2 separate regions of the Homo sapiens genome follow, and region 1 is linked to region 2. A link means that fine-mapping ties the variant in region 2 to the expression of a gene that starts in the linked region. Tissue or cell type: testis. Region 2 holds a variant in brackets; the other region holds the start of a gene. All regions are shown on one strand. Distances are between the middles of the regions. Region 1 holds the start of TSNARE1 (t-SNARE domain containing 1). Region 2 overlaps TSNARE1 (t-SNARE domain containing 1).

The links.
Region 1: TSNARE1 starts here. The variant in region 2 is fine-mapped to the expression of TSNARE1 in testis (GTEx, PIP above 0.99).

What each region holds. Positions count from the first base shown.
Region 1 is chr8:142,400,917-142,406,287 of GRCh38, forward strand. TSNARE1 (t-SNARE domain containing 1) reads right to left here and starts at 2,266. Exons shown (of 14, transcript NM_145003.5): 1 at 2,188-2,266. RefSeq lists silencers at 1,825-1,964, 2,105-2,674, 3,115-3,164 and an enhancer at 2,396-3,171.
Region 2 is chr8:142,227,568-142,232,938 of GRCh38, forward strand. It overlaps TSNARE1 (t-SNARE domain containing 1), which reads right to left. Exons shown (of 14, transcript NM_145003.5): 13 at 1,906-2,012. The coding sequence ends at 1,917. Among named protein-coding and RNA genes, the nearest start is that of LINC00051, 32 kb to the left of the region's middle. The variant A/G (reference allele first, on the strand shown) is at 2,853.

The sequences.
Region 1 (5,371 bases), 170 kb after region 2:
CAGTTCCCTGGTCACCTGGCACCAGGAGGTGCTGTGACCAGTATCATTAGTGTCACCACCTGCAGACACTCACCACCCCTTTTCAGGACCGTGGAAGGATGCACCCACGCCGTGTCGCGAATGGCTTGGTACAGCCATGGTCGAGGCATGTTTGTCTTTCCTCCCCACCTGGAAGGTGACTCCCCAACTCCGCCCACCTGGAAGGTGACTCCCTGATTCCATCTCAAGCTCCAGCATCGTGACCTAGCTGTACTTCTCACCACATTCTCCTCAAAGTCTTACGTGTCCAGTGTATTTATTCATCAAAACCTGCTAGGTGCTTATCCTACTCTCGGTGCTGGGTGGGGTGCTCAGGACACAAGGGTGACACAGCAGAGGTCTATGCCACAGAGGCTCCCAGGCACACAGGAGAGACAAACACGGGAGTGCCAGGGCATTCCAAGCAGAAGGCTCTGCATCGACAGGCACACCAGTGAGAAAAGCCACAGACTATGCAGGAAAAATGACTGCACTGTCAGGGACATAAAGCAGGGACTGAAGATGTGGCAGGAGCTGCTGGCAGGAGCCAAACCCAGGACCTCGCTCTGCAGGCCATGAGGAGCTGTGGAAGAGACTTAGGGACACCTGGCTGCCCATGAGCCCCTAGACTGAGTGCCTAGGTCTAGGCTCTTGACCCAGCATCTACAGAAGGCCAGACTCAGGGGAAGTGTCCAGGGAAGGTTCCTGGATAGAGTCAGAGCAGCCAGAGGCTGCCAGATGTTCATGGGGCCAGGCCAGCAGAGGAGGAGAGAAACAGAGGTGACCCAGCCAAAACTCAACCTCCTCCAGGAAGTCGTCTTGGATTTGCCAGCCTCCCACAGCCACCTGCATTCACGGCCTGTGCTGCTGTGTCCAAACATTTGTTCTACCAGATTTCTGCTGCGGTCCTGTGATGTATGGGGTCGAACGGTATGAAAGCAGCGGTTCAGTCGGGGGAAGCACTCCAGTACTAACAAACTTCAGCTTTCTTTCAACTCAATACTGTGTCCACACTGGGAGTATCCTAAGCAACAATCCCCACCCCTGTCTCACAGGCACTAAAGATAAAACAGAAAACAAGCAGATGAGTGACAATGACAAACAAGAAATACTGTAGGGAGAGCGGTCAGAAAGGTGAGCTCAGACATACCGGAAGCGGAGCTGCCCCCAAGCCAGGAGCGAGCCAGGAACTAAAAGAAGAGGCAAGTGTGCAGCAGAGGAAAGAAAGGGCGCCAGGTGTGGCTGGAAAGGCACCTGGCAGGATGAGGGGCGGAGAAGCACCGGCGGAGCAGCACGCGCGAGGCCCATTTTGAGCCGCACCACACCGCTCACAGAACTTCCTGTGATAAGCAGTGTTCCCTACCCGCGCTGCCCCACACAGCCGCCACCAGACACGTGTGGCTACTGAGTGTCGGACATGTGACCACTGGCACGGAGGACCTGAATCCTTCACGTTAAGGACAATGTAAACAGCCACACATGCCTAGGGGCTACCACACTGGACATGGCAGAGCTTCCAGAGCAGGAGGAGTGCGCCATGAGGCAACAAACACGAGGTCCCTGGAGAGTTTCTGCGGGGGCAGCACAGATCAACATCACCTGAAAGTCCCTGGTGGGGATGTCGCAGGCCCCAGTACCCAGGAAGCACCTTCTTACAACTTGGAGAAGGGACAGAAAGGCATGGAGAGGCAAGCACACAGGAACGGGGTCCCCAGCTCAGGCTCGAAGGCGGGCTCCGCTCGTTGAGCTGCAGGGCACCAACCCTTGCACCCAGCAAGTAGGCGCTGGGGCGCTCCCCGGGACGGCACTGACCTCCAGGCGCAGGCACCGGCTGCCCGGCCCAGAGCCCACCGACCTGGGGTCTGAACAGCGCGCGAGGACCCGCCGAGGGGCTCATGTGCCCGCGGGCCGGTCCCCGAAATGCGGCGCTCTCGCGGGGCTGCGGCTCAGGGTCCCTGGCGCCCCTGGGGTCCACCCCCGGCACGGTCCCGCCCCCTCCCCTCCCCACCGGCGCGGCCCCGCCCCCCGCCCGGCCTCCCGCAAGCCCCATACCACGCCACGCCGCGGCCCCCGCCGGGCTCCGGGCCCCGCGCTGGTCCCCGGCCGCCTCGCCCTCGCCGCCCCACGCCCGGCCCCGGCCAGGCCCCAGCCCCACCGCCGCCGCCTCACCTGGGCCTCGGTGGCTCGCGGACCGCTCCGGGCGCTCACGGCGGGCGAGGCGGGCGGGGCGGGCACCCAAACATCACGTGACGGCCCCTCCCGCCGCCGGCGTGCGCGCCCCCTCCCGCACCAGCCAATGGCCGCCGGTCCCGGACGCGCGCGGGGACTACCCGCCCCAGAGGCCCCGGCGCGGAGCCGGAAGCGGCGCGGACGGCGGTCGGCTGGGCCAAGAGGCCTCTGCGGGTGCGCGCGCGAGTCGGCTGTCCTCACTTGCCTGGTGGTGGGCCTCCGTTTCCCCGTTTCCCCGTTTTGCATATGGGGATGACGGCGAAGGTGGAGGTCACGTGGAGGGCGGCGGCCCGGCGCTGAGGCGCTTCGGGAGCGGGCTCCGCCCAGCCCAGGCCGAGCCCGGACCTCACACGGGCCAAAGCTGGAGCTTCTGCGGGGCTGCGCAGGCGGCGGGTCTCGGCCAGGGCAGGGCCGGGCACCTGCGCGTCTCGCGCTGCGGGGACGGGCGTTGGGCCCCAAGTCAGGCTGCACGGGCTCCGCGTGGGGCCGTGCTCGGCCGGGGGCTGGCAGGCCCCGCGGGGACTCCGGACTCCCAGTGTCACCAACGAGGAAACTGAGTCTCAAGACATCTGAGGGACCTTTGCCCGAGGTCGCAGCCCCTCCCTGGAGGAGCTGAAGTGCAGAGTAGGGAGCCCCTTGCGGAGACCCTCCTGGGACCTCCTTCCGCAGGGGCCTGGGGCGCCTCCCTTTCCCTGCTCTGCCTGCGGGCACTGAGCTCCCGAAAGACTCCAGCCCCTCGCTCTCCCGGTGACCTGCTGGAGAAGACACCTGGGAGGAACCTGCGGACAATGGGTGTGTGTCCTTGGGCCGCCAGGGTCACCTTTCAGCCTGTTTCCCCAGAGGTGAACCAAGAGTCACACCCAAGGCAGGAGAGCAAGAGTGATGAGTCCGCTGCACCTTCTCCGGCAAGCGGAGGTTCTCCCGCCGCCCTCACTCTGTGATGCTTGCTGTGCTTGCGAGGCCTACGCCAAAGCCCTGCGGGCAGCCCTGGGCTCCCGCGGACAGCCTTGCTGAGCTCCTGGGAAGGAGGCGTGCCCTCCCCTTCCCCCACCGCCCCGCTGGCTGGGGTTCTCTGCAGCCCAGGACTGTGCATGTGTGCGCACACGGGTTCTGTGAACACGAACACAAAAGTGTGCTCGTGGACACTGCGTGGTACTGTGTGCACACAGCGCACGTCTGTGAGCTGAGGGAGTGTTCCTGGACACCAGGTGCAAGTGCACAAGTGTGTGTATGCTGGCACAAGTGTGTGCCCAGGCGCAAACATGGGAACGGTAGTATATGGCACAAATGTGTGCACACATGGGTGGGAGGGAAGAGGGGCACATGCCCACCAGCATTCCTGGGCTGGTGCTCAGGCCGGCCTGTCCTGGGCCCACCCACGCTCCTTGCCTTGGTGTATTTCAGTCTCCCCTGGGCTCCCAGGAGGCAGTAGTGTGTGCCTGTCTTGCAGCCTCGCCATGATTTGGACAGGGCTTCACTCTTCGGCTAGGACAGCTAGAGTGCAGGGAAGCCGGCTCCTAACCAGGGAGGATGCCCATGACTGCTGACCCCCCAGCTTCCACTTGAAGGGGAAGGTTCGCCAGGACCAATGCCTGTCTGAGAGCTGTCAGTCTGGACTGAGGATGCCGGGTGCCTGGCACGGTGCCCACCTCCCCTTCCGTGGCTGGCGCTGTCTGTCTGGCCGCCACCTCACTCAGCCTCCTCTGACAGCTCCGTGTTCAGGTGTGCAAAGGAGGGGAAAGTGAAGCCCTTTCCTCCCAGGGCAGACCACCTCCAGGAGCCGCTTTCTTGACCATACAAGGCGTATATGGGGCTGTTTCTGTGCCTGGACACTGCAGGGGGAATGGTCTAGCGTGGGTAGGAACCACCAGAGGAGGGGCTCCGTACCTGTTGGCTCCTCCGAAATCTGGGATGAGCCCGCCTGAGTGCCCCACAGCAAGTCAGGGAAGGTAAACCTCTCCGTGGAAGAGCCAGGAGCCCACTCCCTCAGGCTGAGCCGATGGGGAGGGGGAGGAGGATGCTAAGGGGTCCTCAGGAAGGGATGAGGGAAATAGCCAATAGCTGCCTGGGCCTAGGGCCGGGGCTCCCCTCCCTTCCCTCATCTCTGCCCCTCCCTGGAAGAGGTCATCACATGACCTCGGGCAGCTCTGGGCTCCCTCCTTCCTCCAGAGAAGCAGGACTCCCTGGGAAGAACTCTGGTCCCACCCCTTGGCCAACCAGTGAGACCAACAGGGTGAATAAGTGGGATTGGCCCCAGGACGCTGAGTTCTGTTACCTAAGGGGGTGGGGGTTGCCTGGTCCTCAGCTGGCACCCCCCAAATTGGATCTACCATTCCAGGTCCCAGAGGGAATGTGGGCAACAAGGTTAGGGGGTGGTTCCAAGGCCTTCGGAAGGAACGTTGAGGCAGCACCCACTAAAGCCAACCTCAGAAATGCTCCCTCTCTGAATAGTAGCATGGACTTCTCAGGGTTTAAGCTGAATTTCCAGGTCAGTGTCAACCTATGGCTTTGTCGTGAGTTTCCCCACCCTCCCACCCTTCCTCTCTACCCTCTGCTGCCTGGCTTCAATGTCACCTGCTCAGGAGACCATCCCTTGCTCCCCTGCAGCCCCTGCCTGGACAGGAGAAGGCCTGTGCACCTCCTGCTCTGCTCCCAGCACAGCTTCTGCTCCAGCAAAGCCCACGGGCACTCAGTCCTTGATTCCTGCACCCACCAACCCCGCCGAGCCGCCCTCACTATTACCCAGGCCTCCTTTGTCCCTTAGCAACAGAACCCCAGTTTTGTTCAAGGCATCAATGTAGCCAGCCTCACCAGCAGCTGGGCCAGCTGTGACACTGTTTGCCCAGGGGATGACTGCAGGAGGCACAATCGAGCCTCCTGGTCCTTTGGAAGGGGCAGCTGTGGCCACCCACCTCACTGACAGTCTTCCTTTCTCCTGGCTCCAGCCTGAAGTGTGGGCACGGCATCCCGAGGACAGCAGCCATGTGGCCAGCAAGGGGCAGGGTCCCAAGCTGAGGATGTGAGCAGCTGCCTTGGTGCCCCAATGGCACCGTCAGACTCATCACCATGGGGAGAACAAGCCCCTGCTCCCTTTATGGGTCTGCCTCATTGGATTTCGTCAGGT
Region 2 (5,371 bases):
TTCTCTTTGCCATCCAGGATTTTAGTAGCAAGACCTCGGCTGACCCAAATGAGGTAAGGCCACCTGGGGTCTTCACATGCCCTGCCTAATGTGAACACACAGAAGCCCTGCTGTTGCGGGACGAGCTGACTGGGGAGACCCCAGGGATGCGAAACAACATCTGGAAGGTTCACAGTGTGTCTTCACACAAATCCAAGACCTGTTCAGTCCATGCTGTCCTGGCCATGCTGGCCCTGAAGGCTGGGCTCTGCCTCCGCATTCCTCAGGAGGCTACAGGATAAATTTAGATAATGGATGTACAACACATGGCCTGGCACACAGTAGACCAACCATGGGAGTCTCCAGTGCTCAGTAAGACTCAAGTAGGGCAGCCTTGAGTGAGCAGCCGAGTACTGCAGAACTGAGCAAGGGTGGCATCCACCCTGTTCCCTTGCCAGCCTTCCCGGAGTTTACATGGAGAGGCACTGAGCCTCCATTCCACCAGCAACCAGCACCAGTGTCAGCCACACGCAGATCCAGCTTTGAATGGATCCTTCAGCCGCAGTTGAGTCTTCAGATGATGCAGCAATGGCCAACATCTACCTACAGTCTCACAAGAGACCCAGAGCCAGAGCCACCCAGCTAAGCCGCTTCCAAATCTTGACTCACAGAAACTGTGAGATAACAAACATTGATTTGGTTTCAGCCACTAAGCTTTAAGCTAACTTGGCATGCAGTACCAGTAATGGATATACCTGCTTAACATGTTTCAGAGGCTCCACGGACACTAAGGGCCTTCCCATGTTCTGTCCCAGCCCTGCCCGGCTGCAGCCCAGGGCCCTGTGCCCTGGGGACAGCCATGCTCCAGTGCCAGCCATGTGTCTCAGTACCCATTCCTCCCTGCCTACAGGAGCTGGTGAAGCTTCCTGATGAGCTCTCCTCACTGACGCCTCATTCCTCTCCTCTCCGGTCCGAATGCACACTCACCACATGGCCCAACATGTTCTGTGCACTGACTGCTAGCCCCAGAGAAATTGCCAGTCATAAACTTCTGGAGGTCAGTGCCTAGGAAAAGAGAGGCTTCAGGGTGGCCTTGCCCCAGTGGCTCTGAGTTGCAAGAACACAGGGCACCCCTCTGCCATGTGCACCACTGGGTCCCTAGAGCCCATCCCATGCCTAACACAAAGGAGATGCTCAACAAACACATAGAGGATGATGAAGGAAGGAAGAATGAATGGATGCAAGGAAGGAAGGATGGAAAGATGGATGATGGGTGGATAGGTGATAGATGAATGGATGGGTGGAAGGATGAATGGTGGATGGGTGGATAATGGACGAACAGATGGTGTACAGGTGCATGGGTGGATGGTAGCTAGGTGGATGTGTGAACAGATTGTGGATGGATGGATAGATGGGTGATGAATGGAAGGTAGATGGATGGACAGATGGTGGATAGATGGGTGGATGAGTTGATGGATGGATGGATGGATGGGTGGATGAGTGGATAGATGGATAAATGGTGGGTGGGTGGATGGATGGATGAATGGATGGATGGATGGAAGGATGGATGGATAAATGGATGGTGGGTGGATAGATGGGTGGAAGGTGGATGGATGAATGGAGGGTGGATGGATGGACAGATGGTGAATGGGTGGATAGAAGGGTGGATGGTGGGTGGATGGATGGATGATGGATGGATGAATGGATGGATGGTGGATGGGTGGATGGATGGATGGCAGATGGATAGATGGATGGATGGATGGTGGATGGGTAGATGGATGGACAGATGGACGGTAGACAGGTGGATAAATGGGTGGATGGATAGATGGATGGATGGTGGATGGTTAGATGGATGGTGGATAGGTGAATGAATGGATGGTGGATGTGCAGATGAATGGATGGTGTACGGGTAGGTGGGGTACTCACCACGGGTAGCATCACTTTCGGACAGAGGTGGCGATGATGATGATGATGACAAGCAGGGCAGTGACTCCAGCTGATAGGAAGCAGCACTTGATCTTGTGTCTCTGGAGCTGGGAGAGAGAGAGAGGTTGTTTCCATATCCTGGTCCTCCAACCTCCCATCCTCAGGGGCATTTGGCTTGTGCATACTTTGGGCTGTGGCATGCAGGGGCTGAGTCCACCCTGGGGCAGGGTCCAGAGAGAACCTGTGTCTTTCAAGGGGCTCTGTCCTGAGCTAGCATGACTGTTTATTGAATAACTGCTCTGGGCTGGCTCTGGAGCCAGGTTCAAAGGGAGAGAGGCAGGAGACTCAACTTAAGCTCCAGAGTCAGCCAGGCATGGGTGTGATTCATGCTTTGTCCATCTTGAGCTGAGGGATCTCGGCTGTTTCTCTTCTTGGTACCTTAAATTATTTTGTAAGGATAAGATGATGCCATGGACTCCATGGAGATATTTGAAAGCCTTAAAATTAAGGTGATGCCTGGAAACTACATAGCCTGGGGCCTGGCGAATGCCAGACATATAGTCTTCACCAGATAGTCTTACTTGTATATTCTTGTGGCTATTACTAATTTAAAAAATTCTGGACCCACCATCAAAGGTCTCATGGAAGAGAAAGACATTGATCTGTGCTAAGGGACTGATTAGATAGGGATTTGAAGGCTTCATGTAGAAGGCTATACCTCATTCAGGTCCTGAATGTGGGGTGGGAAACCCCTCGGCAGACCAGGGGGTGAGAGGCAAGGGATTAAGGGAGAACCCAGAGAAAAACGGGAGCTTAAATGAAATGGTAAGTACCAAGTATCCAAAGGAGGGAGCAGGGAGCAAGGGACAGGGAATGGGAAGGGAGACAGATTGGGATGAGACAGTCCTGCAAATTATGAAGGAGTTTAGACACCACCCCTAGACAGC[A/G]GGGAAGACAGGAGTTTAGAGCAGGAGAGTGACATGTTTAGCAGTGTGTTGTTGGAGAGAGCACTCAGGAAGCCAGACAAGAGGATGGGTAGAAAAGAGATCTGAGACAAGGATGCCAGACAGGCGGAAGACTAACGTGTCCATGAAAGATGGGCAGGGGCCTAGGGGAGGGTAGAGAAGGGAGGGTAAGATGGAACAGAGTCAAAACCAGAAGGTGGAATCCTCAGAACCTAGGAGTAACTGGATAGGGGAGAGGAGGGAAGTATAAAGGACAAGCCAAGGATGAGTCCCCTCGGTTACCCCTCTGGGTCATCAGTTAAATGTTGGGATGAAAATCCATTAATGCAACCATCCATCCATCCATCCATCCATCCATCCATCCATCCACCCACTCATCCATCCATCCACCCACCTATCCATCCACCCATCTACCCATCAATTCATCTATCCATCCATCCATCCATGAGCCCACTCATCCATCCATCCATCCACCTATCCATCTGTCCATCCATCCATCCGTCCACCTATCCACCCATCATCCAACCATCCATCCATCCATCCATCCATTCAACCATCCATCCATCTACCCACCTCTCCATCCATCCATCTACCCACCTATCCATCCATCCATCCAAACATACACCCATTCATCTACCCACCCATCTATCCACCCATCCTTCTACCCAGCTGTCCATCAAGATGACCAGCCCCCAGCTCAGCTCCCTCAACTGTCTCAATGTCATTGCACCTTAAGAGGGACCCACATACTGGCCTGAAAATGACCAATTGCTGAAACAGCACCACTTCCCAGCCTTGGGAAACACATTGCTACCTGTGTTCTTGGCCAGGACACTGAAGCTCAAAAAGGTAAAGAGACCTTCCCAGGCTTCACAGTGTGTGGCAGATCTGAGGTCCAGGTCTCTCTCCCTCTAGGTGTTGTCACAAAGTCATGTTGCTGCCTGGACATCCTAGGATGTGGGCAGGGTAATAAGGGGTTGGGGGGTGGCCAGAAGGGGACAGAAGGCCAAGAGTGAATCAGACAAAGCCCTCAGCTTACTGGTTGGCGGGGGGGCAGTCAACCCTCCTGGCAGGGACAGGGCTCTGCATCAGTGCACAGGACAAGGCGCACTGAATTAAGGACAACTTCAGGACACATGACAGCGCCCATGGCTTAGGATACTGGGGTTTGTGGGTGGCCAGTGTCTCTCAGGTCCATGGTCCCCTCACCAGCATCGTCCCAGTCAGTAGTACAGCTGCCCTTTCCCAAGCATCATCCCCCACCACGGCACAGAGGTGGGTCCCACCAACACCCCCAGTCTACAGAAGAGGAGATGGCTCAGAAAGGTGATGTGGCCTGCCCAAAGCCACCAGCCTGAGATCTGCAAAGCCAGGATTGGAGCTGGGCACCCAGCCACAGAGCCTGCTGCTGACTCCACACCCTGCCCCATAAGCCCCGTGCACTTGGAGTTACCTGTGCCCTGTATGTGCCATAAGAGTGCAAGGTGGATTTTCCTGTGCCAGCCCTACTCCCACACTCCTGAGACGGAGCCTGAGGAACCATGCGTGGGGGTCTCCCAGGTACCTGAGGGGAGCAAAGGGCATGGAAAAGAAACAGGAGCTGAGGTCAGGCAGTTCCACTTCCAGGCCTGTGCTCCACATCACTGCCAGACCGTGGCCTTGAGCACAGTGCTGGGCCTCTCGGCAGCAGCAGTTCCCGGCCTTTGACTTGGGGTGCCATGCCCTGGTCTGCAGGCCGAGGTGCATGCTGGAGGAGCTGGTGCATGGGAAGAACTTGGTAGCCATTGCTGGAAGCACTCCCCTGGGCCTCTATCCACACACCCAGCTCCAGACCCCAGGCAGCTGACAGGCCCGGCCTGGCCTCATACTCCTCTTCAGTTGGGTGTTGTGCCCATGCCCTGCCCAGACTGGGCCCTCGGCCACTTCCTGTGGCCCTGAAGTTGGCCAACCGAGGGCCTCCTTACGTGGTCCCAGGTCAGGCCTGTCTCCCTGCGCTACGTCTCTACCCTCCATCCCCCAACCCGCTGGGTTCAACAAATGAGGGGAGGGCGGCCGCAGGGAGGCAAGGAAGCTGGAACCACAGAAACGGACAGGCCAAAGGGGCGGACCCGGATGTAGCAAAGGATGTGCCCCAGAGGAGCCCGAGGGAGCACCTGCGGAAGAAAGGCAGGGAAAGGACGCCCAGGGACACTCTGCAGCTCCAGCCAGCTGCTGCCAAGCCCGGCCCTTCCACAGCCTCCTCTCTACCCATCACCAAGCCACCGCTCCGTATCTGGACACCGACTTCAAGGGAAGAGGCGGGCGCAGGCGATGACAGGCAGGGCCCAGGGATGCCAGATGCTGGGGCTGAGACAGTTGGCAGAGGCAGAGGCAGAGGCAGGCCTTTGAAGAGGGCTCTGCAGCCCCAGACTTGTCCAGCTCCCCTCCCCGACCCCAACTTCCGCATCAGCTGCTGCGGCCCAGCAACATCCCTGGAAGGGAGGAGCTGCCTGGCCGGAGGG